Linked DNA regions of Homo sapiens. The protein of the gene in region 1 purifies or fractionates together with the protein of each later gene. This does not show direct contact. Each region holds a gene or a part of one and is shown in the gene's direction. Other genes may lie near its edges.

What was found.
Region 2: the proteins of NISCH (region 1) and FRMD1 purify together in Homo sapiens (co-immunoprecipitation; one large-scale study listed by IntAct). This does not show direct contact.
Region 3: the proteins of NISCH (region 1) and LACC1 purify together in Homo sapiens (pull-down; one large-scale study listed by IntAct). This does not show direct contact.
Region 4: the proteins of NISCH (region 1) and KIAA1671 purify together in Homo sapiens (affinity purification with mass spectrometry, with the first as the bait; one large-scale study listed by BioGRID). This does not show direct contact.

What each region holds. Positions count from the first base shown.
Region 1 is NC_000003.12:52,484,406-52,492,447, forward strand, and holds part of NISCH (nischarin), read left to right. Parts: intron 1-107; coding exon 108-232; intron 233-1,372; coding exon 1,373-1,422; intron 1,423-2,790; coding exon 2,791-4,200; intron 4,201-4,930; coding exon 4,931-5,273; intron 5,274-5,669; coding exon 5,670-5,826; intron 5,827-6,299; coding exon 6,300-6,428; intron 6,429-6,946; coding exon 6,947-7,108; intron 7,109-7,466; coding exon 7,467-8,042. UniProt on the Homo sapiens protein: Acts either as the functional imidazoline-1 receptor (I1R) candidate or as a membrane-associated mediator of the I1R signaling.
Region 2 is NC_000006.12:168,066,663-168,074,722, reverse strand, and holds part of FRMD1 (FERM domain-containing protein 1), read left to right. Parts: intron 1-7,199; exon of another isoform or gene 7,200-7,236; coding exon of another isoform or gene 7,237-7,276; coding exon 7,277-7,356; intron 7,357-7,593; exon of another isoform or gene 7,594-7,891; coding exon 7,892-7,968; intron 7,969-8,060.
Region 3 is NC_000013.11:43,888,331-43,895,154, forward strand, and holds the end of LACC1 (purine nucleoside phosphorylase LACC1), read left to right. Parts: intron 1-426; coding exon 427-652; intron 653-1,783; coding exon 1,784-1,943; 3' UTR 1,944-1,944; exon of another isoform or gene 1,945-1,949; intron 1,950-3,118; coding exon of another isoform or gene 3,119-3,272; 3' UTR 3,273-5,602; downstream 5,603-6,824. UniProt on the Homo sapiens protein: Purine nucleoside enzyme that catalyzes the phosphorolysis of adenosine, guanosine and inosine nucleosides, yielding D-ribose 1-phosphate and the respective free bases, adenine, guanine and hypoxanthine.
Region 4 is NC_000022.11:25,040,889-25,048,948, forward strand, and holds part of KIAA1671 (uncharacterized protein KIAA1671), read left to right. Parts: coding exon 1-637; intron 638-8,060.

The sequences.
Region 1 (8,042 bases):
ACCCCCGCCATGCCAGTAGCCTGAGGGGCCCAGCCCCACTTGTTGAACAGCCGCTCTCCCCGCCCCACCCACCCTGCCTGCCTGCCCACCCGCCCTGGTCTCTCCAGGAATCATGTTCGTTCAGGAGGAGGCCCTGGCCAGCAGCCTCTCGTCCACTGACAGTCTGACTCCCGAGCACCAGCCCATTGCCCAGGGATGTTCTGATTCCTTGGAGTCCATCCCTGCGGGACAGGTAATGCCCTCTTCCCGCTTCTGGGGACCATACATCTGTGGGTGGACTCTTCTGCTTGGGGTTGTGTGCAGTAGGAAGTGGCCTAGCTGGAGCTGAGGCAGATGCTTCCAGGGTTTGGCGTCCTCTGCTTTGTGCCACGGTCTTTCTCTTGGACCTGTCTCTGGTTGAGTGTCTTCCTGACAAACACAGTGGTTAAGGGTTTATTTTCAGCCTCCCTCCTTCCCTTCCCCACCCACCTTGGTTGATGGGAACAGGCAGTTCTCTGTCACTGGGCCCAGGGCACGAGGGGGGCAGGTGGAGAGGGTGGCCCTTGACCCTGTGAGCAGGCTTCCCTGGGGAAGGCATTTCAAAAGACCCTCGTGCAGGGGCTTGTTTGGGTTTCTTCTCTGTTTCCTGGCACCCCTGGAGCCACTCGGCGCCTTTCCGCATGTCACCCTGGTGGTCTGGGAAACAGTCTCACTCTGGCGCCTCCTCTGTGGTTGTTACTGAGAGTTCTGGGGCCCCTTCCTTTGTCCTGAGGAAAGACAGGAGGAAAGCAAGGGTGCTTGCTGTGTGCTTCGCAAATGTGCTTGGTGCCTGGGCCTCCCTCCAGCCCCATCTCTGCAGCAGCACAAGGTTATGGCCTTGTGACACTGGGACAGTTTGCAGAGTCCTTGTCTGTCCTCAGTACTCCACAGTATTCTGCCATCACCCTTTCCAGGGTCACACAGCAAGAGATTCCCAAGCCCTAGGTATTCCCCAGTGCACAGAGACCATTGGGAGGGACTTGCCAGGGCTGTGTCCACTGCTGGCCAGTTAGGGTCGGACCAAATTTGTAGACTGTCTACCTGGACCCTTGCGTGGCACAAGGAGCAGTCAGATGCTGGATCCCTGGAGAGTGGCGAGAGGCTCTGGCCCTAGGTTGCGAGTGGGAATCCCAGCCCTGCTGTGTGCTGGTGGGATAACCAAGTGGGTCTCTGCCCTTGGGTCCCAGAGTGGGCCCCAGGGTCCCAGAGTGGGCTCCAGGGTACAGCGTGGGGATGGGGAGCCTCCTCAGGGCGGTGATGGAGGGCAGAATGCCCAGCTCAGGGTCTGGCAACCAGTAAATGGCTGGGGCTGGCTGCAGTAGGTGGGGACTGACTGTGTTTCTTTCTCCATCAGGCAGCTTCCGATGATTTAAGGGACGTGCCAGGAGCTGTTGGTGGTGCAAGGTAAGGAAGAGGTTGGAAAGGGACCTGGGCCTGGCCACACAGCCTTATGCACACACACTGCTGTGGGCCAGGGGTGGCCAGTCAGGTTTTTTTAAAAATCCGTTCACAGAAGGCCTATAGAACTATTTCTTCCTCTAAAGAGACACAGATGAGATGGACTTTTCAATCTGTTTCCAAATTCTAATACCTAAACTCTGCTCAGCACATGTTGCCCTACACCAGGGGTTGGCAAATCAAGGCCTGTGTGTGGCCCACAGCCTGGGAGCTAAGAATGACAGTTACATTCTTTTTTCTTTTTTTGAGACTGAGTCTCGCTCTGTCGCCCAGGCTGGAGTGCAGTGGCGTGTTCTTGGCTCACTGCAACCCCCGCCTCCCAGATTAATGCAATTTTCCTGTCTCAGCCTCAGCCTTCTGAGTAGCCCGGACCACAGGCGCACGCCACCACGCCCAACTAATTTTTTATATTTTTAGTAGAGACAGAGATTCACCATGTTGCCTAGCTGGTCTCGAACTCCTGAACTCCAGTGATCCACCAACCTCGGCCTCCTAAAGTACTGGAATTACAGGCATGAGCCACCGCGCCTGGCTAGAATAACAGTTACTTTTTTTTTCTTTGAGACTGAGTCTTGCTTTGTCACCCAGGCTGGAGTGCAGTGGCCCGATCTCAGCTCGCTGCAACCTCCGCCTCCCGGGTTCAAGCGATTCTTCTGCCTCAGCCACCCAAGGTGCCCGCCACCACACCTGGCTAATTTTTCTGTTTTTAGTAGGGACAGGATTTCGCCATGTTGGACAGTTACATTCTTAAAGGGCTGCTGAAGATCGTATGGACATGGTAGCCCATAAATCCCAAAATGTGTACTCTGACCCTTTACAGAAGCTTACTAACTCCCACTCTACATGTGAGGGCTGCGGTGGCCAAGAAGAGCTGGAATTTAAGTGTGAAGGTCCTAAGACCTGCCCCAGCCCACTTCCCTGCCCCGGAGGCCACCAGGGGTGACAAGTAGATTCATGCCCTGGAGTGTTCCTTCTCTCCGGGGCTTATGGCAGCAACTGAATGACTTAGAAGTCCATGGGAGTGCTTCTGTTGTGGGAACTCGTGTGGTCTGGGCATAGCTGTGCCAGGCACCTATGGTCCAAGCCCCTAGAAGCATAGACTCTGACCAAACTGGCGACCCAGCCTTCCAGCAGGCAGCACTGGCTCCCACCAGGGCCCTCATCCTGGGAACTGACTTGGCCATGTGGGAGGCTTGGGAGACCCATGGGTTGGTTTCTCAGGGTCAGGGTGTAGCAGTGGGCTCCAGATGTGGCAGGTGGGAGGTGGGAGGGGCCCCTCCCAGCATGCCACTGACCTGGCCTCTCCCTGCACAGCCCAGAACATGCCGAGCCGGAGGTCCAGGTGGTGCCGGGGTCTGGCCAGATCATCTTCCTGCCCTTCACCTGCATTGGCTACACGGCCACCAATCAGGACTTCATCCAGCGCCTGAGCACACTGATCCGGCAGGCCATCGAGCGGCAGCTGCCTGCCTGGATCGAGGCTGCCAACCAGCGGGAGGAGGGCCAGGGTGAACAGGGCGAGGAGGAGGATGAGGAGGAGGAAGAAGAGGAGGACGTGGCTGAGAACCGCTACTTTGAAATGGGGCCCCCAGACGTGGAGGAGGAGGAGGGAGGAGGCCAGGGGGAGGAAGAGGAGGAGGAAGAGGAGGATGAAGAGGCCGAGGAGGAGCGCCTGGCTCTGGAATGGGCCCTGGGCGCGGACGAGGACTTCCTGCTGGAGCACATCCGCATCCTCAAGGTGCTGTGGTGCTTCCTGATCCATGTGCAGGGCAGTATCCGCCAGTTCGCCGCCTGCCTTGTGCTCACCGACTTCGGCATCGCAGTCTTCGAGATCCCGCACCAGGAGTCTCGGGGCAGCAGCCAGCACATCCTCTCCTCCCTGCGCTTTGTCTTTTGCTTCCCGCATGGCGACCTCACCGAGTTTGGCTTCCTCATGCCGGAGCTGTGTCTGGTGCTCAAGGTACGGCACAGTGAGAACACGCTCTTCATTATCTCGGACGCCGCCAACCTGCACGAGTTCCACGCGGACCTGCGCTCATGCTTTGCACCCCAGCACATGGCCATGCTGTGTAGCCCCATCCTCTACGGCAGCCACACCAGCCTGCAGGAGTTCCTGCGCCAGCTGCTCACCTTCTACAAGGTGGCTGGCGGCTGCCAGGAGCGCAGCCAGGGCTGCTTCCCCGTCTACCTGGTCTACAGTGACAAGCGCATGGTGCAGACGGCCGCCGGGGACTACTCAGGCAACATCGAGTGGGCCAGCTGCACACTCTGTTCAGCCGTGCGGCGCTCCTGCTGCGCGCCCTCTGAGGCCGTCAAGTCCGCCGCCATCCCCTACTGGCTGTTGCTCACGCCCCAGCACCTCAACGTCATCAAGGCCGACTTCAACCCCATGCCCAACCGTGGCACCCACAACTGTCGCAACCGCAACAGCTTCAAGCTCAGCCGTGTGCCGCTCTCCACCGTGCTGCTGGACCCCACACGCAGCTGTACCCAGCCTCGGGGCGCCTTTGCTGATGGCCACGTGCTAGAGCTGCTCGTGGGGTACCGCTTTGTCACTGCCATCTTCGTGCTGCCCCACGAGAAGTTCCACTTCCTGCGCGTCTACAACCAGCTGCGGGCCTCGCTGCAGGACCTGAAGACTGTGGTCATCGCCAAGACCCCCGGGACGGGAGGCAGCCCCCAGGGCTCCTTTGCGGATGGCCAGCCTGCCGAGCGCAGGGCCAGGTGAGATCAAGCACAGCTCTCAGGGGCCCCGGGGGCATGGGTCTGGCATGTGTGTGATCTCAGCATCTGCGGCTAGTGTGGGCTGGGAGTTGCTGCGAGAGCTGGGCCCCCTCCCCCCCTGCCCCTCGCCCCCCCCGGGCCTCCCTCTACATCACCACCCCAGGTTTGGTGCCAGGCTGCTCCTTATCTCAGTGCTGTAGAAGAAGCCCAGGAAAGCTGTCCTCTCACAAAATGGGTTGGCCCAGCCTCTTGCCACCCATGAAGGGCAGGCCAAGGGGGCTGCCCCACCTTTGCCTGCCCAGTGGGAGAGCAACAGGCTGCAGCACACCGAGGCCAGGAGAGCTGTCACCCTGGCTGCTGTGCTCCTCTGGGCCCAAGCATGGCCTCTGGGCACTACCTCCTCCAGGGTCACAGTCCCACGGATGGCTCTGTGGGCCAGGATCTGCCTTAGGCTTCACCCACCTCAACATCTTGCTGTGTTGTTCAGGCTGGTCTCAAACTTTGGGCTCAAACAATCCTCCGCCTCAGCCTCCCAAAGTGCTGGGATTACAGACATGAGCCACCGTGCCCGGCCGTGCTGTTCTGTTCTCCAATAGAGAAGCTGGTGGAAGTCCCCAGTAACCCAGAGGTGATGTGTGATGCACACAGTCTCCTCACTCTGAAGCTGCACATGCGATGTGAATCTTCATTTGGGGTCCGCTGTTAATATGGTGTTTTTCGGGGGATACAGCAATGACCAGCGTCCCCAGGAGGTCCCAGCAGAGGCTCTGGCCCCGGCCCCAGCGGAAGTCCCAGCTCCAGCCCCTGCAGCAGCCTCAGCCTCAGGCCCAGCGAAGACTCCGGCCCCAGCAGAGGCCTCAACTTCAGCTTTGGTCCCAGAGGAGACGCCAGTGGAAGCTCCAGCCCCACCCCCAGCCGAGGCCCCTGCCCAGTACCCGAGTGAGCACCTCATCCAGGCCACCTCGGAGGAGAATCAGATCCCCTCGCACTTGCCTGCCTGCCCGTCGCTCCGGCACGTCGCCAGCCTGCGGGGCAGCGCCATCATCGAGCTCTTCCACAGCAGCATTGCTGAGGTAGCGGCCCGGGTGTGGGTGCCAGCTATGGCACGGCCAGTCCTGAGGGCGAGGCCAAGCTTGGCTTCAGGTCAGCCTCAGGTCCCTGGACTTCCCTGATGTCGGAGTCCTCAGCTGAGCTGCTCACAGCTTTGAGGACCTGGGCAGTGAGGTCCTGAGTTGCCCTCCCCTGGCCATTTGTGCTGTGTCACCACCTCCTGTGCCACTTCCAGCCCCAGGTAGACCTCCCACCAACAGCCATCTCCCACCCCTCTCTTCCTCTCTGCCTTGAAGCATACGGATTCATTGGTGAGCCAAGAGGGGCTTCCCATGTCTCCTTGTGGAAGCTGTGGGCATGTCCCTGGTATGTGCAGGTTGCTAGGGTGGTGGAGCTGACAGGAGGCCCCCCGTCTTCAGGTTGAAAACGAGGAGCTGAGGCACCTCATGTGGTCCTCGGTGGTGTTCTACCAGACCCCAGGGCTGGAGGTGACTGCCTGCGTGCTGCTCTCCACCAAGGCTGTGTACTTTGTGCTCCACGACGGCCTCCGCCGCTACTTCTCAGAGCCACTGCAGGGTAGGCACAGGGCCTGCTGGGGCTCAGGAGCTTGGAGTGTGTGGTTGGGGCAGGCCTGGGGGGTCATTCTCTGGAGCCAGCTGTGTGGCTTCAGGCAGCAGTCAGCGACTTGGCTGCAGTGGGCTGAGAGTTCCTTGTCTGAGGAAGGGAGCTGTCATGAGGGAGGGGTCCATGGCCAGATGTGAACGCAGAATGCACTGAGCCAGGGCCTGGTGACTGCTTGGGAACAGCCAGTGATGAGAAGGGGTTAGGCAGCCTTTGCCCCTGGGGCTGCACAGGAAGCCCTAGCCAGCGACCTGGTGACTCCCCTGAGCTGGAAGAGGCTCCGACTCCAGAGGGCATTGCCTATGGGGCTTTGCACGGGTGGAAGCCAGGCCAGCCAAGAGGACCTGTTCCTGCTGGATGTGCTGCACACCTAGGAACCTTGTGCTTGCCTGCCACCGCCTCCCTCTGTCCCTTTCTCCATCACACAGATTTCTGGCATCAGAAAAACACCGACTACAACAACAGCCCTTTCCACATCTCCCAGTGCTTCGTGCTAAAGCTTAGTGACCTGCAGTCAGTCAATGTGGGGCTTTTCGACCAGCATTTCCGGCTGACGGGTGGGTGACCCTCTGTGCTTTGTCCTATTTCGGGTGAAGGCCAGCATCACCAGTGGGCTTCCACCTTCCGTACGTGGGTGGGTTATCATAGACAGTTATCTCTGTGCTCAAGAGCCACTTCTTAACCGGGGTGGGAGGAAGCAGCTTCAGGAACTGCTGAGAGAGCAGAACTCACGCTCCAGGGCTCAGAGCAGGAGGTAGGGTGTGCGGCAAGCGCTGGCCCGGACAGAAGCAGAGTGGGCCCTGGTCTCGGGCAGGATGTTTCTGACTCACATTTCCTGAGGAGAGAAAGCTAAGCTCTTTGCCTAATGTCTCTGTCTCCCCTTCCAGAAAAATGCCTCAGCTCTTCCGGCCTGAAGGAATGGCCTCCTCCCGGGCCCCATGATTCTTTCCTGTGTGGGCCCTCCTGGCCCTGGCCTCTGGGCTGAGGCTTGCTAGGGACTCGGGGTGGCTCTAAGGGGCAGGGATAGGGCTGGGGAGCGCCGGCCTGTGGCCCTGACCAGCCCCTTCTCGTGCAGGTTCCACCCCGATGCAGGTGGTCACGTGCTTGACGCGGGACAGCTACCTGACGCACTGCTTCCTCCAGCACCTCATGGTCGTGCTGTCCTCTCTGGAACGCACGCCCTCGCCGGAGCCTGTTGACAAGGACTTCTACTCCGAGTTTGGGAACAAGACCACAGGTACCCCTGTCTAGCTCAGGCTGCAGACAGGCTGCCTGGACAGACGTCATGGGCCCCAGGGTGGCTCTCTGTGCCCCAGAACCCTCTCTGCCTCTATGTCTCTCTTTTCTCACTTAGCTGGCCAGGGTTTTATGTGGGGCTTTTCGATGGCAGAGTCTCCACTCCAGCAGTCCCTCAACCATCTGGCAGACACATCTCCAGTGCCTGCTTTGGGCTCCTGGCCTGTGGGCCCCACACTTGGAGCATCCTCTCCTGCCTGTCTCATGCCGGGGTCTCTCGGTTGGCTTGGGGCCCTTGGTGCTCCCAGCCCCACCAGGGGCCGGTTCCAGGCTATAGCCCAGGTGGCATCTCTCTGCAGGGAAGATGGAGAACTACGAGCTGATCCACTCTAGTCGCGTCAAGTTTACCTACCCCAGTGAGGAGGAGATTGGGGACCTGACGTTCACTGTGGCCCAAAAGATGGCTGAGCCAGAGAAGGCCCCAGCCCTCAGCATCCTGCTGTACGTGCAGGCCTTCCAGGTGGGCATGCCACCCCCTGGGTGCTGCAGGGGCCCCCTGCGCCCCAAGACACTCCTGCTCACCAGCTCCGAGATCTTCCTCCTGGATGAGGACTGTGTCCACTACCCACTGCCCGAGTTTGCCAAAGAGCCGCCGCAGAGAGACAGGTACCGGCTGGACGATGGCCGCCGCGTCCGGGACCTGGACCGAGTGCTCATGGGCTACCAGACCTACCCGCAGGCCCTCACCCTCGTCTTCGATGACGTGCAAGGTCATGACCTCATGGGCAGTGTCACCCTGGACCACTTTGGGGAGGTGCCAGGTGGCCCGGCTAGAGCCAGCCAGGGCCGTGAAGTCCAGTGGCAGGTGTTTGTCCCCAGTGCTGAGAGCAGAGAGAAGCTCATCTCGCTGTTGGCTCGCCAGTGGGAGGCCCTGT
Region 2 (8,060 bases), on another chromosome or scaffold:
TACACATGCACAAACCACACACATGCCCACAATTACACACCACTCACACATACACATACACCACACACATGCACACACACCAGTCACACATGTACACATGCATGCACCACACACATGCACACAGTTACACACCACTCACATGTACACATGCACAAACCACACACATGCACACAATTACACACTACTCACATGTACACATACATACACCACACACATGCACACACCAGTCACACATGTACACATGCATGCACCACACACATGCACACAGTTACACACCACTCGCACATGTACACATGTGCGCACCACACACATGCAGTTACGCACCACTCACACATGTAAACATGCACACACCACACCTGCACAATGCCGATTGTGCTGTTCTGGGGGGCAGTTGGCTCCAGGGGCTTCTGGAAACCTCTGTACAGTAGCAGGACCCTGGATCTATGTGAATTCGTACCTGGAGTTCTAGTACACGCAGACGGCAGGTGGAGGGGAGTGGGGCCGGTCCCCTGGGCTCCACAGACCCTGCAGCTGGATTGTGTCGCATGGAAGAGCCGTGAGAACCCAAAGTGCTTCATGTGCACTTTTTGCTGCCCCAGGAAGTGAGTGGCAGCGCCTGTATCCAGTCTCACTAAGGACTGGTGGCTTCTCATCTATAGTGGGGGCTTGAGGTTGGCAGCACAGACAAGCCCTGGCCCCCTCTCCCCAGCCAAGCCGAGGGAGGCTACATGGGGCATGGACAGATGGAGATGAAGCTCAGTGCTGACCAGCGGTGGCTGAATATCCCCCTGTCTTGCTGCCTGGGGAGGACAGGGCTGAGCTGACCTCTCCCAAGCTCTCCCCAGAACAAGTTGCCCTCTGTCTAGGGGAGTGAGTGAGCCGGGGACCCTGCACGGGACACCGGAACCCACACTCCATCCTCCCAGTGTCTGCAGCGCCTTGTCAGGGGCTGTGAAGGGAGCGTGAGATTTTAGGATCCTTTTGGACGAAGCCATCTTGCTGTGACCGTCCTGTGTGGTGCCCTGGGGTTCCATCCTAAGTTTCTCTTCCAACCATCGTGAGTGTGGACAGAAGCCAGCCTTTCCCTCAGCGCGGGTGGCCCCGGCCCCTTCTGTGCCTCAAAGTAGAGGCGAGAGTGCCCCTGTCTCAGTCTCCTCCTTCCCTAATCTCCGCCTGGAGCAGAACCCTAGCTCCATCTCAGGGCTGCTCTGGGGGCTGTGGGACCCCTGGGCGGTGTGGAAGGAGGACCCTGGGGGGCAGAGGGAATAAGATGGGGTCCAGCAGGCCAGCCTTTCTGATGTGACCTCATGCATTTAGACCCAGTCCTGAGTCCCCCAGGGGACCCTGAGTGGACACCATGAGCCCCTGAGGGCAGGTGTGGATCTGGGGCTTCCTGTGTCAGACTCTCCAGGCAGGGTGGGGAGCAGGGAGAGCTGGAGGGCGCCTCCCTTTGCTGCTGTGTTTGTCAGGCAGCCCCCACCCGATTCCAGCCTCCAGCAGCTTCACTTGGTGTTGCAGGGGGGTGACTGGGGGTGGGGAGGTGGGAAACTACACCCAGCACTGGGCTTACACCCGGGAGCAGCAGATGTCAGTCTTGCTGTCAAGGTTGAATACTGGTGGACTTTTCCCAGTTTTCAGGGAAGTTCTAGCCCAGTTAATATGTTTGTCCACAGCTGCCATTCATGCCACCCTGTGCAGGAGCCCAGTCAAAACACGTAGCTTCCCAGACCCTGTGCCCCCATGGGAACCTGAGCCATCTGAGGGCTGTGGACAGAAGTCTCCAGGCCCCACTTTTAATCACAGTGAGAGTCACTCAGGGGAGGGCGGGATGTTGACTTTGGAGAGTCCAGTTTTGCTATTCGGTTTTGTGGTTGGTGTCATCTCTCTGTGATTTTAGAAATGAAAAGAAAATTAGTCTGGACAGAATGAGGGAAGAAAGTTCAAGCGTCCCAACCCTGTTCTTGGCATCTTTTATTTCTTAAAGGCTTAAAGTCTCTTTAACAGCCAAAAAACAAATCGAGGGCGGGGTGGGGATTGGGGGGAATTCAGGGGCTGCCCGCAAAACCCGGGCCAGGACCCATCGCTTTGGTTGTGCATCATGTTCATCACCGCCGGACGTTCACCGACATGTTGGAGCCGCCGTGTTTGGGGGGCGAGCTCTGGTCCGCGCTCCACTCTGCCTCGTCTGTGCCCAAGTTCTCGGCACTGAGGCTTCCCTGCTCTCCCAAGGCGAGAAACGCCCCAGGGCATCCCCCTCCCTATGGGAGGCCCTGCACAGGGCGGGTCGCTGTGGTTGAGAGGGCCTCTGGGAGACGTGGTTCGCAAGGCGACCACGGGTGTGAGGGCACGGGGAGTTCAGCCCTATCCGGAGTTCAGGCACAGCCCCTGATGTCCCCGAAACCTAGAGACAGCAGGTGGTGTTGGGGGGTTCTGAGGGTGGAGTGTGGGGGTCCCCCAGAGGTCCAGTGGCAGCTCCTTGGGGAAGGACCTCCCCTCCCAGCAGGGGGTGCAGGGCAGGGCGTCTCTCCTGTTGCCCAGGAATCCATCACCCAGGCGGGGCAGGTTCCCGGTGGCCAAGGATTCTCCCGGTTTATGTGCTGATGATCCTCGGTGTTGGGGAATTGCAGACAGGTCATGAAGTCGGCAGCCCCGGCTTGGACGCCATCGGCTGGCTTCTAACCCTGTTTCCCTTTCGACTGAGGCACAGTGTCCGTGTCATCAGCTGCCCAGATGCTAAGGGGAGAGCTCACGGGCATTTGCCGTGTGTCTGAGCACAAGGGCCAGCAGTGGGGAGGCCCGGGAGGCAGGAGGCAGGGGTCCTTGAGTCCTGAAGGTCAGCACAGGATGAGGGCCTGCAGCGCTGGGACAGCCTTGAGCAACAGGAGGGGCTGGGAGGGTGGCCTGGAACAGCTCCCACTGGCGGCCAGGCAGGTGCACACAAAGGGAGATTACTGGCTCATCAGCCAGTGTTTGCCTTGTCTTTACCCTGCGGAGGGAGTTCCCAGGTGGGAGGGCTTTCCGACTCCTGCCAACCAACCCTTTCTCACGTCTTTCTTGATGATGTCCCCTTTCTCCCTGTCCCCTTGACACTGGACATTTGAGACAGCCTGTGGCCGAGCTCACTGGCCTCAGGGACAAGAAAGGAATCTGGGGTCACCTTTCCTCCTGGTGATCCAGGAATCCGCCTCTGCAGGAGGAGGACAGACTCAGAACCGGCCCCTCAACCTCCCTGGCGCTGCGGTTTGGCACCTCCACCCAGCAGAGCCCTGTGGCCCCAGGGCCTTCTTGACCCGAGGACACCCTTCTTGGTTCTGGCCAGAGCCCTTGCTTTGGAGATTTGGACTTTTTATACGGGAAGTGCTTGGATTTCTTACTTTAATTATCTCTTAAGTTGTAAATTGTGTACATTTTTGAGACATTTTGTGAATTGTGTACATTTTTGAGGCCTGTAGCAAAAAACAAGAGATGTGATTTGGGGCTTGGATATAGAGGCAAGGCAAAATAAGACAGAGACAGAGAGGAATAGAGAGAGAGTGGGCTCCACCTGGCCTGGCCTTGGCCCTCGCTGCCTGGAGCTTGCTCCTGTGGCAGTGAGCAAGGGTGCCGGTGTCCAGCCCCTTGGCCAGCCCTGCAGGAGTCTCGTGCTGTCACACCAGTGTCAAGGGTAGCAGGGCACAGTGGGGAAGTTCAGGCCTTTTGTTCAATCAACAGGCACCTGTGGACTCCATGGTGTGTCCCGATCTGCCTGCCACGAGCTGAGAGGATGACTCTCACTGGGAAGAGAGTGAGGAGGCTCTAGAGGGTGCATGTAGTCCCCACCCTGCTGGGTTCAGGGGAGCCTGTAGCCAACGCCAGAATCTCCCCTTCCAGCAGCAAGATGCCGGTCCTCCAGCAGACAGTCATGTGCCAGTCAAGGCTCTCCAGAGAAGCAGGACAAGTAGGACGCGCACGCACACTCCTGACAGATGTATGCGTATGTGTATGTCTGTATACACGTATCCTTCCGATCCCATTTCTCTCTACAGATAGTGTGTGTGTGTATAGATACATAGAGGGAGAAAGAGAGAAGCTGATTTATTGTAAAGAACTGGCTCATATGATTGTTGGAGGCTGGCAAGTCTCAAATCTGCAGGGCAGGCTGGAGACCCAGGGAGAGCCACTGTTGCCATCTTGGGTCCGAGGGCCATCGGGAGACGGAGTTCCTTCCTCCAGAGGGGACCTCAGTCTTTCCCTGTTAGTCCTCCAACCGACTAGACAAGGCCCACCCACAGTATGAAGGTCATCTGCTTTGCTCAAAGTCTACTGATGTAAATGTCTCCCTCCCTCCCTCCCTCCCTCCTTCCCTCCCTCTCTCCCTTCCTTCCTTCTTTCTTTCCTTCCTTCCTTCTTTCTTTCCTTCCTTCCTTCTTTCTTTCCTTCCTTCCTTCTTTCTTTCCTTCCTTCCTTCTTTCTTTCCTTCCTTCCTTCTTTCTTTCCTTCCTTCCTTCTTTCTTTCCTTCCTTCCTTCTTTCTTTCCTTCCTTCCTTCCTTCATCTCACTCTGCCACCCAGGCTGGAATGCAGTGCTATGATCATGGCTCAGGTGGATCCTCTGGCGTCAGCCTCCTGAGTGGCTGGGACTGCAGATGCATACCACCACAGCCAGATACCTTTTGTATTTTTTTGTGGAGTCGGGTCTCATTATGTTGCCCAGGCTGTCTCAAACTGCTGGGCTCATGCAATCCACCTGCCTCTGCCTCCCAAAGTGCTGGGATTACAGGCATGAGCCACCACACCCAGCCTGAGTGTCGCCTTCATCTTAAGAATGTCTTCACAGTGACATCTAGACTGCTTTGACCATACAGCGGGGCACTGTGGCCGGGCTAAGAAGGGTGCGCCCATCACCAGAGGTGATGATGTCTGCTGTCCCACTGCTAGGGGTGCAGGGGTTTAGGGGGACAGTGATGATTTTGAGAAACAAGTGGTTTCATCTTCTAGATCGGTGTTGCCGCAAGTATTGTTCTCGTAGTGTTTGAGGTTAAGTCCTAGGAAGTACTAAGCTTAAGGAGTTCATTTTCTGTCCTCCTTATTATGATTTGAGATGGAGTTGGTAAGGATACAGTGGGGTGATTTAGGTAATGAATGTACAAATAAAAGGCCTTTTGCTGACCTTACCGAGGCAAAGGTAACCCCAGATCCTTTAGCGAACATTGCTAAACATCTGCCACTCATGCTGCAAACACTGAGTTCAAGCTCGAGTACCCAAATAGTGAATTCGGGGGAGTCAGGACCAGAGAATGGTGATCTAGACCTTTTCACTCGGCATTTGCTTAGACCGGGCATTGGCAGACTTTTTCTGTAAAAGGCCACATAGTAAATATTTTGACTTTGCAGTACGAAAGCAGCTATGGACATGATGTAATAGAATGATTGTGGCTGTCTACCAACAAGATTTTATTAACAAGAGCGAGTGGGTGCTGGGGTTTGGCCTGGGGCCCTGGTTTGCTAACCCCTGGCTCTGAGGGTCCTTGGCCTGTTATGGGGTGGGGTGGGGACTCCCCTAGACTCTGCAAGTCTGGGCCTCCCTGTCTGTGAGATGGGGGTAGATAACAGTGCCATCAGGTTGAAGATGTAGGGATTGGTTCAGAGTCTTTAACACAGAGCATGGCACCCAGTGTCTAAGCAGTGAGTTGCTGTGGTTGTTACCGATGAGCCAAGTGTTTGATCCTCCCTGACACAAAAGTAAACTGGGGCTGGTGACACCTTGGAGCCTCCCCCTGGGTCTAACGCCGTCTAGAAGAGCCAGGTACTAAGGATTAGAAAGACAGGCAGGGCAGAGAGGGGCTGAGCCAGGCACCCGGCCCTGTGATGCCCTTTCTGCAGGCCTCTGTGGGTAAGTCTTCCTCACTGGTGTCTTCATTTATCTGCAGATGTGCTAGCACTTGGGGATGGAGTATCTTCATATGTAATGCAGGTGGCTGTAAGGGAGTACTGCCTTATCAGGGACTAACTTTTCCCTGTGGCTTTTATTCTCAGGACTGCAGGTTTTCTAATATAAATAAGAGTAGACTGTGCTCTGTATCCACGGGTTCCGCATCCTTGGATTTAACTAACCTCATGTTGAACATACTCAAAATAATAACAATAAATAGTACAACAATAAAATAATATGAGCTTAACAACACAGTACAACAAAGACTTCCACAGCATTTACATTGCATCAGGTATTATAAGGAATCTCAAGATGATGTAAAGTGTACATGAGGATGTGCATAGGGTACATGCAAACTCTACACCATCCCCGGGTTTTGATATCCGAGGGGAGTCCTGGAACCAGTTCCCAGCAGACACGGAGGGATTGTACGTTGCTTTAAGTCGCAGCAGGAATGGTGTCTCTCTAGGCTTTATTTTCCTCTCTAGGAAAATTGTTTAATTTTTCCAGGCCATAAAGAAAACACATGCTGGTAAATATTTTTAAAATATAGAAACACCTAATTTAGAAAGAAGCGTCTCTTATAGTTTCCAGGGAAACCAGGTTAACAGGTAAAGCTGGGATCATTGACTTGAAGTTGATCACGTTGGTACTAGATTATAGACATCTCTATTTTTATTGATTGATTGCTTGATTGTTTGAGGCAGGGTCACACTCTTATCACCCACACTGGAGTGCAGTGGCACGTTCATAGCTTTCTGCAGCCTTGAACTCCCAGGATCAAGCAATCTTCCTGCCTCAGCCCCCTGAGTAGCTAGGACTACAGGCATGCACCGCCACACCCAGCTAATTTTTTTTTTTTTCCTGTGGTGACAAGGTCTCATTATGTTGTCCAGGCTTGTCTTGAATTCCTGGCCTCAAGCAATCCTCCTGCCTTGGCCTCCAAAATTGCTGAGATTACGAGGTTGAGCCACCGCATCCAACCCTGACATCTCTATTTTTTAAACGACTCATTCCATAGCTGAGAGAGGGGTGCCTGGGTTGCAGAGGAAGAGGGTAGGGATACATGTTGCTAAGTTGCTTTCCCAAAGGGCGTGCCCGGAGCATGTGCCAGTTTTGAATATCAGCTTGTAATATTCCTACACGTTGGAACATTGTTTTAGTAAGCAAGCATTTGACACCTGCATGTGTGTTAAGATGCTTTCTGCGTTGTCAGCCAAGGAAAGCCCCATATGCAGCGTCAGCTGCAGACGCACAGTTTTCAGCTGTGCATCTCTTCTCTCCAAGCCACACTCAGTTTTGAACACACGGTGACACCTGAGAAGCATGGTGACTGCTCTGATGAAGCCTTTTGTTTTGCTTTCAGACAATGAGTATATATTTATGGATTTGGAGCAAAAGCTCAGCAAGTACTTCTCAAAAGATTGGAAGAAAGAAAGAAATGAAGTAAGTGTAGAGTGTCGGGTGGGAGAGGGCAGGCACCGCGGTGGGCTGTGCTGGGCCACGGGGACACGTGGGGTGGGAGAGAGCAGGCACCGCGGTGGGCTGTGGGGGACCGCGGGGATGCGTGGGTTGGGAGAGAGCAGGGCACCACGGTGGACAGTGGTGGGATGCGTGGGGTGGGAGAGGGCAGGCACCGCGGTGGACTGTGCTGGACCAATGTGCTGCCTTCTGTCCACGCAGCTGCTCCGTCCAGAGGGGCTGTCCGCAGGGGGACTGTGGTGAGCCCTGAGGCTGCAAGCAGGTGTGCCCGCCCGAAGCCCGCCTTTGCAGATGTTCTTGAACGCTGTAGACCACGTCCCACTCAGGGTTCTCCGGGTAGAAAATACCATGAGTCGAATTGTCAGCTATGGCTGCAGACACCTGAGCTTCGACTTTAAGCTGAGTGTGAAGCAATCCAGGCCCCCCCAACTGGGAAGACAGGACAGCCAGCGGCACCTCCCTGCGGCTCACTTGCTCTTTCTTGCATTTTCCCCACTAGGGAAATGAGAAACCCAGAGCCCCCTTCGTGGCCTTCCTCCGAGTGCAGCACTACGTGGAAAACGGAAGGGTCATAAGGTAACGGCATGCGGACTGTAAGGGGTGTTTCCTGGAATACTGAAAATCTGCCGCATGACGTGGAAGTCCCCTGAAGGCCACACATTACATTT
Region 3 (6,824 bases), on another chromosome or scaffold:
AGTTTCCATTTTATCAAATGAAAAAATTCTGGAGATTGGTTATACAACAATGTGAGTTCAACACTACTGAACTGTATACTTAGAATAGTATTTTTTTGTGGTTATAATAGTAAATTTTGTGGGTTTTTAACCACAATCTTTTAAAATGTGAAAAATAGAAGACTAAGAAGCTATGATCTCAGTGGAAACTAAAAGTATAGAGCATCTTTAAATGGAAGATGAAGAAAACTCCCATTACATGTCTCTTCTGTGTCAGGTGCTTTGTGTAGTATGGCTCATTTAAAAACCACATGATAATGTAATTTATTATTTCTGGACTTTGAAAAATATACAAACTAAATCTGCTCACTTTTAACTTAGACATAAATTCAGGTGAAATTTTTTATGTTTTGACTTCTCTTATCTCTTTTTATTCCTATTTACCAGGTTGGAAAGGTACTTTGTTGGGTGTTGCTATGGCTACAGTGAATGCTATGATAGCAGAATATGGCTGCAGTTTGGAAGACATTGTTGTTGTACTTGGACCTTCAGTAGGACCTTGCTGTTTTACTCTTCCAAGGGAATCAGCAGAGGCATTTCATAATCTTCATCCTGCATGTGTACAACTATTTGATTCACCAAATCCCTGTATCGACATCCGTAAAGCCACAAGGTATGTCTGATTTCATTCAACTGCAAGTTTGATTATTTCTGATTGTTCTAAAATGAAATTTATTTTGGAGAACAATTAATAACTCTAAGAAGAATTTAGGTGGTGGTTATTTAAGCAGCTGACATGCACATGTACACAAACACTCATTTTAAATATGAAATCTGTTTTCATTTGAGTTTGAATAACAGAAATTTTCCTGTCTGGTATCTTTCATTGATTTAAAAGTGAAGGAAGAAATATTTGGCATTTAATTTTAAGAGATCTACTTAAACTTCATATAGAAAAGTTGGCGTGTACTTTACTTCACAGCCATTCCTCAGCTAAATTCTCCTAAATGTAATGAACTATCAGGAAGCTGATATTTTAAAATTATTCTTATTATCTAATTAACTAGAGGAATATGTTTTTTAGAAAAAATATTAGATAATATAAATACACGGTTTTTTACTTTTAAGTTTTTTACAGTTCTTCGCATCTTTTAATTTACAAGGTTTTGTTATTAATAACTGGTGAAAATTATTTGTCATTACTACAAAGGCAAATTAATGTATGTTTTAAATCATGTTTCTATTCCAGTCGCCAAAACTTTACCCAGAGTCTGCCTCATTTAGTACAGATGTGGAAAAGTTTGAAATTGATTCTTAAATGTGACTTTTAAAATCAAGTATCACTAACTTGTAGTCATATTTCATATCATAAAGTGTTCATGGAGAAGCAAGTTTTCTGAGAAAAATCTGGCTAATAGAAGGAAAGGAGATGAAGGGCCAGATGACTAAAAAGCATACTCTGGCTGAGCCAGGTGAATTTTGCCTGATATCCTGGTAACTTTTGTAGACATTTCTTCTTAAATAAGCACTTGATTTTGATTATAAAATTCTGTACCTAGATTATGTCTATAAGACAATATGGAAGGTTGTACTGTGCATATATGAACTTAGGTGATAAATGCTGATAAAGTGTAGCATTTTTTTCCCTGACTAGTCCATGTTCTGTAAGTGAATAACAATATACATTGTTCTAGGTACATCTTTCCTGGAACTTTTTCATGCCAACATCCATACTTTTTTTCATATTGCTTTGGCTATTGGGAAAATAAACTCTTGCTCTCTTTTGAAAAATATTTTTCCTAAGGATTCTTCTAGAACAGGGAGGAATTCTTCCACAGAATATTCAGGACCAGAACCAAGATCTCAACCTCTGTACATCTTGCCATCCTGACAAGTTTTTCTCCCATGTCCGAGATGGCCTTAATTTTGGTACACAGATTGGCTTCATATCAATTAAAGAATGAGGTACAGTAGGTTTTCTCTCCTCTCTCCGTTTTTCCTCTCTTTCATCCCTCTCTCCACTTCTCCCTCCCTTTCTCTTTCTTCCTCTTTTAGCCTATTCCTCCCCTTATTTAAAAAAAAAAAGTTAATTATGTTAAACTTTACTCCTTTATTCCTACAGGGAGAATGATGTTTCTACTTTTTTAGTGATGTAATAGTGGTAGCAACGTTCATTTCCAATAACACTCTATTATGAAGAGCAGCCACTCCTTTTCCTAGTTAATGAAGAATAATTAGGCAGGCTTATGTTAAAAGTATAAAAATAAAACAATTTAATCTTTAAAAAGGTATGTAAGTATTTCCTTTCTCTCTACTATGTACTTGATATCTGTACATTCCCTATCCTCACATCCTTATAACTTTCATGTTATTTTTGAAAACAAATCTTTGCATAAACATTCTGAATTCTAGAATCATAAGAAATTCTCACAAAGAAACTAGCTTGATTTTCAACTAGATTTCCAAATGATTATCTGCAGTTGGAGTTGCCCAAATTTTTATTTTAAAATGACAGTAAGTAGTTTAGACTTTGTGGGACATACAGTATATCTCAGCTACTCAGCTTCGCCATTGTAGAGGTAGAGCAACAAGAGATACTGACAACATAGAGATGAATGAATATGTCCGTGTTCCAATAAAACTTTGTTTACAAAAATCAGGCGAGGGAGCCAGGCACAGTGGCCCTGCTCCTGTAGTCCCAGCTCCTCGGGAGGCTGAGGTGGGAGGACTGCTTTAGGCCAGGAGTTTGAGTACAGCATGGATAACATAAACCCTGTCTGTAAACAGTAAAATAAACAGGTAAGGGGCCAGATTTGGCCTATAGGCTATAGTACACTGACACATGATCTAAAGTCATACAGCAAGACTGAGTGTAATTTTCTTAAAATAGTATTTATTAGAGATGGTTTTGTTGGAATTATACAAAAATATTTCATGGCACTGATTTAGCACTGCCCCTATAAGATATGTGTAATTTTCCCTAAGGTTACTTCTAGCTGAATTAATATTATTTTTTACTCTTTACAATGTTTTTAGCTCTTTAACTTACAGAAAAACTTTAATAGACTTCATGACTCTTACCTTGATATTCTAATAACACCAGTAAGCGTCTCATATTTGATTTCTATGTATTTTACAGATACTTGACTGGATTTTTGTATAACTGCTTCCTGCCTCCTTCCAAACTGACTGCAAGAGAGAAATTTAGCTGTTTGATTTACTTAAAACCAAATGGATTACAATGGATAATTCATCTTTTGGGTATATTTTTACTATTATTCAAAGCCAAATGATTTTCATTTAATTGTAATAATAACTGACAAAAATCAGTATGTTGTAGCTAATATGTTTTATGCATGAGAATTATTCTTAAAGTTTGTTCTCCCTGTTTATTACACAGATCAGGAATAGATTTGTTCAGTTCAGTATTTATTGGATACCCTCTATTGGTCAGGCATTGTGTTAAGCATATGTGAATCAAAATGAACACAACTTTTTCCTTTGAGTCTGATACAGTGAAGGAGATAAACACTTCTACAACTTAAATTTAATTTTAATAGCAGTAGAAGAGAACATAAGGAATAGAGGTTAATTTTACCCAGAAGCAGGATAGAGAAAATATTACAGAGAAAATCACATATCACATGGGCTCGAAAGATGTAGAGGTTTTTGACAAATGAAGAACAACCATAACAGGTAGAGGGAACACCATGAACCAGGGCATGAAACTGAAAGTGCATAACATATTCTAGAGAGAGAAGGGTGTGGGCATGAGTTAGGGCTGGAAAAACAGGTTGGAAACAGATAAGTAAGGGTCTCAAATGCAATGTCAAAGAGCTTGCAGTTTATTTTCCAGGCAATGAGTAGGCAGCCAAAAAAAAAAAAGTAAGGATGTTTTTTTTTTTTTTCCCATGGCATCATATTTAAGAGGATGGATTTAAATTGTGTGAGACCAAAGCATAGAGACTAGATAAGAGGCGATCAAAATATTTCAAAAAGAAATAATGAAGATCCAATGAAGGAAGTGGAAATTAAAATAGGGAAGAGAGTAGATGGATTAGAGAGACATTTAAGAGATGGAATCAATAGATCCTGTTACTAGATAATGGAAGTAAGAGGTGAGGAAGAGTGGAAAAGTCATTAATGACTCTAAGATTTCTGCTTGGCTGCTTACCAAGATTGGCAACAAAGGGAGGGAGAAGGTTTGGAAAAAGAGAGAAGGATAATGAGTTTGACTTTACATAGAATGAAGGGCATCCAGATAGAAATCTTTGGTTAATAATTAGAAATATAGACCTAGAAATTAGGAGGAAACCTGAGACAGAGACAAATATTTCAAAGCTTACAATACAGAGATGATACCTGATTCTATTGGAGCAGGTTTGATCATCTAGGCAGAAATTAGGATGAGAAAAAAGGAGATCCAATAATACAACCTTATAGTCACAGAAGTAAGAAAAAAAGGGTAGTTGTTTTGAAGAAGCCAGGATAGGTGTGGAAAGTACTCAAAAAGAAATCTTCAGGGATAAAATAAAGTGATAATTTAAAAGAAATCAATGGATTAAACATATTGAAACTGTTCTATAGGCAGTGGTCATTGAGTCAGCTTTCAGTGCATTAGGAAGAAGATGCATAGGTGTCAACTCTTTTCTGACAGCATTTACTAGAGAAGAGAAAAAGCTGGGGACTACATCTTCAAGGAAGGGACTTTTTTTGGATGAGCAGTTTTGAGTGTGTTTGTCAGTTAAAGAGAGGAATTAGGTTAGTTTTCATTTGGGAAAAATTGTATATATATTTAATGTAAGTTATCACATTGCATCTTAAAAATATTCTTATTTAATACATATATTTCCTACATGTATATGTGGTAGCATGATAGCAAATAACATTTGTTTGGTATTTCCAAAGGACTTTCATGTACATTGCCTCATTTTACCTTTACAGCTACTCTGAAATACACAGGCATTATCCCTTTTATTCAGCTGAGAAAACTGAGCTTCATTGAGGTGGAGGTCAAAAATCACAAAATTTGTGATGAATTAAGATTTGAACATATGTTTTGTGACTCCAGTTTTCCTTTCAGATTTTAAAATTAATTAAAGGGATCTTCATTATACTTTTATTGTTAACTTTTTGTTAACATAATTTATTCATACATTCAGTGAAAATTTTGTTGAGGTACTGGGACAGGTTAAAAAATACAGTTGTAGCCCTCAGGATATTTAATATCCAGTGAAAAGTGACAGTCAGTAAACCAACAATCTCAATACTTTGATATATGTTGTGAGGTTGTGATAACCGATTCTTGTTTAGTTTAATTCTATATCTCCCTTAGACCAGTGTTAAATTTAAATAAAACACCTCATTTTTTCCAATTCAGGGAAGGCACTAAACATAAAGCATAGGATAGAAATGTTGAACTCATCCAAAATATTATTTTGTTTAATGAAAATGATGAAGATTAAGGAATACTTCCATGTATTGAGTAAGGTTGATAATTTTCTAATTCTTCACTGTGCATTATTTTGTTTGAAGTTGGTAAATTTGGAGTATCCTGCAGACACATTTTGCTTTATGTACTACAACATTCTACAACCAAATAAAAATTATTTTGATTATCTGATTTTGGATTATCTCTGCCAAAGTATATAATGAAAGGTTGTCTCCTTGCTGCTTTACTGAATGAAAAGTGTTGATTTAGTAACTCCAAACTATCAGGTTATTAAATAATCATCTTATTGTGTCTACAAGATAGCTGTCACTCTCACATATTTGTATGTAGGTTTCTAGGACTTTTGGGGTACAACAACAAAGATTTCTAGTAAGTTTTGTTTTTGTTTTTAATTTTATTTTAAATTTATAAATAACAATGGTACCTATTCATGAGATACATAATAATGTTTCCATTCATATAATGTACAGTGATCTGACCAAGGTAATTAGCATATCTATCATTTCGAACATTTTTCTTTGTGTTACGAACATTTAATATGTTCCTTCCAGCTATTTCAAACTATATAATATACTATTGTTAACTATAGTTATCCTACAGTGGTATAGAACACTAGAACTTATTCCTCTTAAAGTTTTGTTTTTAATCTAAGCACTGCTACTAACTGCACATAGGAAATATTGATTGCTATTTTATTAATAAGGGGAATTAAGTTTGTAAGTCAAATAAACATTAATGAAATACCTTTTTGAAAATACTATCAAACTAAAACTTACTGGGCCATTTATCCAACTGTAATTTTAAATTGTGAAAAATAGCACAGTGGCCAAATATGCTATACCCCAGTGCTTTATAAAACAAATAAGATGACCTTACCACTAGGAGGTGGTATTTCAACAAGTAGCTCTACTATTATTTCTTGGTATAAAGTTGAACTAATCTTTTTTTTTTTTGAAAAAAATCAACTTTATTTTTTCTAGGTTTAAAAAAATAGAACCAGCTATTAATTTTTGTTGAGAAAATGCATCTTTTGGTGTTCACATCTAAATTTCTGAAAAGGTGATCTGGTTACTAAAATCATCCCAAATACATTCATAAACCAGATCCACGTGTGACCAGCCCTTTACAAAAATTAATTACAGTTGCCACAGCCTTTACATTCATTCTTATCACACGTTACAACATGCAGATAACACAAAGAAAGGTCAACAAGCTGAAGTAAACATTACAGCATCAGGAAAATGAAAACCCATCTGTATAAAATAAATACAATTTTGTAATAACTGTAAAGAAAATGAAAGCACTTAATAAAAATAATGGCAGTTGAATGTATAACTGTCTCATCTCCCAATCATAAAATAAGTTACTGTAAAATGCATAGACTCCTTACACT
Region 4 (8,060 bases), on another chromosome or scaffold:
GCCCGATACCGGGGGTCTCTGGAAACCGGCCAGTTCTGCCGAAATAAATCACAGTTTCACTCCTGGCTTAGGCAAGCAGCTGGCAGAGACCTTGGAGACAGCCATGGGCACCAAATCTAGCCCTCCCTTCTGGGCTCTGCCACCCTCGGCTCCTTCTGAAAGGTATCCAGGGGGCTCTCCTATACCTGCGGATCCCAGGAAAAAAACGGGGTTTGCTGAGGATGACAGAAAGGCCTTTGCCAGTAAACATCATGTTGCAAAGTGTCAGAATTACCTGGCTGAGTCAAAGCCCTCTGGTCGGGAGGATCCAGGCAGTGGGGTCAGGGTGTCACCCAAATCGCCCCCCACTGACCAGAAGAAAGGGACCCCAAGGAAATCCACCGGGCGGGGAGAGGAGGACAGTGTGGCCCAGTGGGGTGACCACCCACGTGACTGTGGACGGGTGCCGCTGGATATCAAGAGGGCCTACTCAGAGAAGGGGCCCCCTGCCAACATCCGAGAGGGCCTGTCCATCATGCATGAAGCCAGAGAGAGGAGGCGAGAGCAGCCCAAAGGGAGGCCCAGCCTTACTGGAGAGAATTTGGAGGCCAAAATGGGACCCTGTTGGTGGGAGTCAGGGACTGGAGACAGTCACAAGGTAAGTACCGAGACACTTTTTAATTTTGTCAAACATGGTTTAAACATCTAGTCTAGGGGGCCGAAACTCAGATTTTGTGTGGCCCACTTTGGGTACATAAATGAGTGGAGTCAGGCTGGGTATGAGGCTCCAGGGAGGGGTATGGATTGTGGCAAATGGAGAGCTCATGCCCTATCTGAACTGGACAACTGCTGCTTGGTCCCACCTGGTTCTTTGTTTGTTTATTTGTTTGTTTGAAACAAAGAGTCTTGCTTAGTTGCCCAGGCTGGAGTGCAGTGGCATGATCATGGCTCACTGCAGCCATAATCTCCTGGGCTCAAGCCATCCTCCCGCCTCAGCCTCCCAAATAGCTGGGATGACAGGCATGCGCCACCATGCTTGGCTAATTTTTTATTTTTTGTAGAGACAGGGTTTTGCCATGTTGCCCAGGCTGGTCTCAAACTCCTGGGCTCAAGTGATCCTCCTGCCTCGGCCTCCCAAAGTGCTGGGATGACAGGCGTGTGCCACCATGCCTGGCCCAGCTGGTTCTTCACAGGCAGGAATGCTGGCCTTGAGATGGCAAACCTCATTTATCAAGAGAATCTGAAAATCTAGATTTTTATGTGTAATCCTCCCATTAGGAAATGAGGAGGACTTATTTTTAAAAATGCTGTTCAGCCCAAACAAGACTTGTCTGCTAGCCCCATGCAGCGCGCCGGCCACCTGTTTTACACTTCTGTCCTACAATGACGATAATGATAGATATCAATGGTAGCTTTATTGTGCTCCTGCTGTATAATAGCCTGTTGTATCCTGTTCATTATTATGTCCCCAGAATCCAGCATCATGCTTGACATACTGTGAATGTTCAAGAAGTATTTGTTGAATGAGTGAACAAGTGATCTTACGTGAGCCTCAAAAGAGGGATCACCATGGTTTTGGGTTCCAGCAGTCCCTTGTTTTTTTTTTTTTTTTTTTTTGAGACGGAGTCTCACACTGTCACCTGGGCTGGAATACAATGGTGTGATCTTGGCTCACTGCAACCTTCGCCTCCTGGGTTTAAGCGATTCTCCTGCCTCAGCCTCCCAAGTAGCTGGGATTACAGGAGCCCGCCATCATACCCGGCTAATTTTTTGTATTTTTTTTTTTTAGTAGAGACGGGGTTTCACTATTTTGGCCAGGCCGGTCTTGAACTCCTGACCTCGTGATCCGCCCACCTTGACCTCCCAAAGTGCTGGGATTACAGGCGCGAGCCACTGCGCCCGGCCTGTAAGCACTTTTTAAGGGGGTGATCCCAGGAAGAACCAGTAGGGGAGAGAAGAAGTGAGGCAGGTGCTACAGGGGCCATGGTTGGCCACAGAGGCACATCTCACTGGGGACCCCGGGAGGCAGCATGGAACACCTCTGAAGTTGTCATGTCCAGGGGTCAAGGGACCTGGAGTATGTATTTTCCAATCCCTCTGTCCTTGCCTGAGGCTGTTTGTGGGGTCATGAACATTCAGACTTTTCCATCCTGGCTGGCACCATGCACAGCAGAAGAAAGAAAATCTGGCTTCCTTTGTTCAGTGAAGAACAGAGAGAAAGAGAAGAATGGATGGCAGGGTGGGGGGTGGGGAGGAAAGGAGGAAGGGATCACTTTAATTACAAGCACACCCTTTTGGGGGTACATAAGCAGAATAGCTGTGAAGAAACCCTCACCCAAATAAGCCACTTTGTTTTTAACACACACACACAAATTCAAATCTACCCAAATATCTATCAGTGAGGCTCTAGGGTGTTGGCAGAGGGCCCCTTCTCTTGATCTTTGGCATATACCTGAGTGTTGGGCAGAGTGCTGACACTACCTACTGCTGTGTGATCATCTTCCTGTACAGATGGGGGGAAAAAAACAGAGGCTCAGAGAGGTGAAATAACTTGTCCCAGGTCACACAGCAGTAAGTAACAAAACTGGTATTTGAACCCAAATCTGGCCTTAATTACCCAACTGGGCCATATTCTAGGAGACCATTCTGGTGAAGAACCACGAAGGTGGGGAAGAAATCTGAGGCATAAGGACCACCCTTTGAAGCTTCTGATCTCTGTGGGGAGATGGGCCATTGTGATCCAAGACTGGGGAGTGATGGGGTGCAGAGGGAGGCACTGGAGAGGTGGCCCAAGGTGTCCTGGAGGAGTCGGTGGTCTCAGCCCAAGCTTGAGGGTTGGCCATGCTTTTGGGTGGGCTGATGAGGGGAGGTGAGGGCATTCTCAGCAGGGCACAGCATGGACAAAGGTTTGGAGGTGGGAAGAGCGTAGAATGTTGTGGGGGACATGTGGAAATGGACTTAGCACCGCCCTGTGTGATGTGGCATCAGCAAATCAGGCCACAGATTCTTCCTTTGCCACTTGCAGCTGAGTGATACAGGGCAAAACCTTTCACCTCCCTGCACCCGAGTTTTCTTGTCTGTAAAAGGGACTAGGTGGCCAGTCTGGAAGTGGATGCTGCAGAAAGGAAACTCTAGGATACAGTCAGTAATGATCATGCGGTGAGGATTTGCCTTCAGTTAAGAGTGGGTAAGTGATGGAGTCAGGCTTTGAACCCATGTCTGTTCCCAAGAGGCCAAGCTCTCCAACCACCATGTGCAGGATCACGCAGACTTGGCATCTGAATCTCCACGCTGCTACTTGCCTGCTGTGTGTAAAGCAGCCTCTTGGCCTCTCCTGGCCTCAGTTGCCATGCCAGAGTTAACAGGGATTCCTGCCCCAAAGCACTGTTATTAGACTGAATTGAAATAAAGCACCGAACTTGGGCCATCCCCGTGTGCTTCCTGAGAAGGGTTTCATCTGTCCCTACCTGCAGGCTGATGTTGTGGTAACAGTGGAAGAAGGAAGAGGCCAAGGAAATGCGACACTTATGTTTGCCAGCACCTTGCTCAGGGCCCGCTGGTGGTGGGGGAGTCGGGATGTTGTGGAGGGGGGATCCTGGGCTCAGCTCTGTCCCGCAGCCCAGCCTTGGATGCCTGCCTGGAGCACGCAGGCCCCAGCAGTGCTGGTTGTCAGGGGATCTGTTTTCTCACCACGGGATTGGGAAGCCTTGGACCAGCTTCCCGTTTCTCTCTTGTCTCCTGCCAAAAGATCTTTGGTTCTTTGATCTTAAAAAAAAAAATAAAAACACACCAATACAGAAGGAAAAAATGTTGGTTGTTAAAATTTTGAACCTTACAGGGGTATAGAAAATAAAAGGTGAGTGTTCCCCCAGAGGCAGCCACCATTACATTGTTTATGTCCTTTCGGACTTTCCTATATTGACAGTCACTTATCAATCATATATATATGCATAATTGTCATGCTTTTCATATTGCAACAGTAGCGAATGCTTGCGTAAAATGTGAAATACTGGCTGGGCACGGTGGCTCATGCCTGTAATCCCAGCACTTTGGGAGGCCGAGGCGGGTGGATCACGAGGTCAGGAGATTGAGACCATCCTGGCTAACACGGTGAAACCCTGTCTCTACTAAAACTACAAAAAAATTAGCCGGGCACAGTGGCGGGCGCCTGTAGTCCCAGCTACTCCGGAGGCTGAGGCAGGAGAATGGCGTGAACCCGGGAGGCGGAGCTTTCAGTGAGCCAAGATCACGCCACTGCACTCCAGCCTGGGCGACAGAGAGAGACTCCGTCTCAAAGAAAAAAAAAAATTTTGAAATACTATAGAAAAATGGTGTAGAGAGAAAATCTCCTTTAAATATTGAGCGTGGTGCATAAACTGGGGAACACCCCTCTAGGCCCATTAGTGGTTTTTAACTATGGGCAATTTTGCCCCTGGGGCACATTTGGCAGTGTCTGGAGACATATTTTGTTGTTGTCACACCCTGGGAAGAGGTTGCTATTAGCGTCTCATGGGTAGAAGCCAAGCATGCTGCCCAACATCCTACAAGGCACAAGACAGCCCCCACTGCAAAGAATGCTCCAGCCCCAAGTGTTTGCAGTTTGTAGGTTGAGGAACCCTGGTCTAGACACAGACATAGATAAAGGTAAATGCATAGACTTAGATATAGGTAAATACATAAGCTTTCTATGGAAAACTACAACAGTCTATAGAAAATCTTGTGGCTTACTTTTGTTTTTTGAGATGGAGTTTTGCTCTTGTGGCCCAGGCTGGAGTGCAGTGGCAGGATCTTGGCTCACTGCAACCCCCGCCTCCCGGGTTCAAGTGATTCTCCTGCCTCAGCCTCCTGAGTAGCTGGGACTACAGGTGCACACCACCATTCCTGGCTAATTTTTTGTATTTTTAGTAGAGATGGGGTTTCACCATGTTAACCAGGCTGGTTTTGAACTCCTGGCCTCAAGCAGTCTACCTGTCTTGGCCTCCCAAACTGCTAGAATTACAGGCGTGAGCCACTGCACCCGGCCTCCCCTTCCTCTTTTTAATGGTTGCGAAGTATTGTATTATGTGACTGAGCCCAATCTATTTTAACCTAGACTCTCATTGATGGGTATTTGGGTGGATTTGAATTTTTGTGTGTGTTAGAAACAGGGTTGTGCCGGGTGCAGTGGCTCACATCTGTAATCCCAACACTTTGGGAGGCCGAGGCTGGCAGATCACTTGAGGTCAGGAGTTTGAGACCAGCCTGGCCAACATGGTGAAACTCCATCTCTACTAAAAATACAAAAATTAGCCGGGCTTGGTGGCGGGTGCCTGTAGACCCAGCTACTTAGGAGGCTGAGGCAGGAGAATTGCTTGAACCCAGGAAGCGGAGATTGTAGTGAGCGGAGATCGTGCCACTGCACTCCAGCTTGGGCAACAGAGCGAGACTCTGTCTCAAGAGAAAAAAAAAGAAGAAGAAAAAGAAACAAGGTTGGTTCCTTGGGTGAGGGTTTCTTGATTTACAGCCCAAAAGGGTGTGATGGTCATTAAAGTGATTCCTTCCTCTCTCCATCCCTTCCTCTCTCCATCCCTTCCTCTCTTTTTCTCTGTTCTTCACTTAACAGACATTTATAGAAACTGTTTCCCAGACCCAACAGTATTTCATTTATTTAAATTATTTATTTTAGTTTTAAGAGAGAGACGATTTCACATGGCTCCACTCCAAAAATACTTAAAAAACATTCCCCTGATACCTGCCATGCTTACATTTCTTCCACCCGGTAATCACTTTTATTCCTTTTTTTTAAATTCCTTTTTTTCTTTTGAGGCTTCTTTATGAAAATACAAGCACATAGAAATACATATTTTTATTTTTGCTTCACTTTTCCATAATAAAGAGCACTTTCTCTAAGTGGTTGAAACTTTGGTTGCCTATGGGAGTAACACAGGGAATCCTAAAAGATATCAATGACTGGGCCTCTCTCCAGGCCAGTTAGGTCAGAATCTCTGGGGTAGGACCTGCCTTTGTTAGTTATGAAGGCTCCCCAGGGGAATCTTGGGTTGAGGATCTCTGTTGAACCCACAGATTTTCCACCTTTCTGTTTTTCATATAATGTGTCTTGAGAGTTTTTTTTTTTTTTTTTGAGCCAGCGTCTCACTCTGTCACTCAGGCTGGAGTGTAGTAGTGAGATCATGGCTCACTGCGGCCTCAACCTCCTGGGCTCGAGCAGTCCTCCCACCTCAGCCTCCCAAGCAGCTGGGACTACAAGCACATGCCACCACACCTGGCTAATTTTTTTTCTTTTCTTTTTTTTTTTTTTTTTGAGACAGAGTCTTGCTCTGTTGCCCAGGCTGGAGTGCAGTGGCATGATCTCGGCTCACTGCAACCTCCACCTCCTGGATTCAAGCAATTCGCCTGCCTCAGCCTCCCGAGTTGCAAGGATTACAGGCATGTGCCACCTTGCCCAGCTGATTTTTATATTTTTAGTAGAAATGGGGTTTCACCGTGTTGCCCAGGCTGGTCTTGAACTCCTGACCTCAAGTGATCAACCTGCCTTGGCCTCCCAAAGTGCTAGGATTACAGGCGTGAGCCGCCACCACCACCATGCCTGGCCTCTTTTCCTTTTTTTTTTTTTTTTTTTGAGATGGATGGAGTCTCACTCTATTGCCCAGGCTGAAGTGCAGTGGTGTGATGTCGGCTCACTGCAATCTCCACCTCCTGGGTTCAAGCAATTCTCCTGCCTCAGCCTTCCAAGTAGCTGGGATTACAGGCGCTCGCCACCATGCCTGGCTAATTTTCGTATTTGTAGTAGAGACGGGGTTTCACCATGTTGGCGAGGCTGGTCTCAAACTCCTGACCTCAGGTGATCCACCTGCGTCGGCCTCCCGAAGTGGTGGGATTACAGGCATGAGCTACTGCGCCTGGCCTTCCCTTTCTTAATGGTACCCTTTAAAGCACAAAAGTTTTTAATTTTGAAGAAGTCTATTTTATTTATTGTTCTTTTGTTGTTTATGCCTTTGGTATCATATTTAAGAAATCACTGCCTAAGCCTAGCTCTTGAAGATTTACACCTCTATTTTCTTCTAAGAGTTTTCTAGCTTTAGCTCTTACATTTAGGTCTTTGATCTATTTCAAGTTGATTTTGGTATATAGTATGTCAGATTTGCAGCATGTTTTGCAGGTAGAGTCTCAGCTTTGCTGATGCAGTGGAGAAAAGTGGGAGAGAATGGGGAGGAGAATGGAGGGCAACCCGAAGGTCTTGGCCTCCCCAGCTGGGGGATGGATGGGCAAGGTGTGGGAGGAGCAACTGTGGAGAGATGGAATCAAGACGCATGTTTTGAGCACGTGGATCTGAGATGAGTGTGAGCTTCCAAGAGATGTTGAGTGAGCAGTGGGATCTCCGAGTCTGGAGTTCCAACACTGAGAAACAGAATTGGCAGGCATCTGGGTGTAGATGGGATTTATTTAAAGCCATGGGGGGCGTGAAGAGAGATCCCAGAGGGAATGATGTAGCAAAAGGAGAAATGGCTCTGCGGCTGGCCTGGGACATGTGGGGACACTGATCAAAAAGAGCCAGGGGGTTAGGAGGAAAACCAGAGGGTCTCTGAAGGCATCCAGAAAAGAGGCTGTGAGGGAAGGGATTAGAAATCCAGTCTTCCTCTTCCTGGTGCTGTGTGTTCTTAAGCAGCTCCCTCCCATCTCTGGGCCTTTGTTTCCTTGTCCACGCAGGGAGAGTGTGAAGCATATAAAATATGCATCCTGGAGTCCTGGCCTGTGAATGTTTCCCCTATATATAACTAAGTGGAAAAAAACAGCAGGATTCCAAGTAGATGTACTGGAGGTGCTGTGCTGTTCATGCACCGTTTCTCTGTGTCTATGCATGTGTGTTTGGGTGCATAAAGAGATGATTAAAATAAGGTCACCAAGAATGACCACTGGCAGTAATGAGGCCAGCCAGCATTTATGGAGGGCTCCCCAGGTGCCAGGGATGGAGGAGGCTAGGGTAAGCCAAGCCAGGTGCCCAGGACTTGTGCACGTCTGCCCCCTGGTGGCTATACTGCATCATGTACATTCCATGTGCTGTTTCTTAGCGCCTAGAAGCT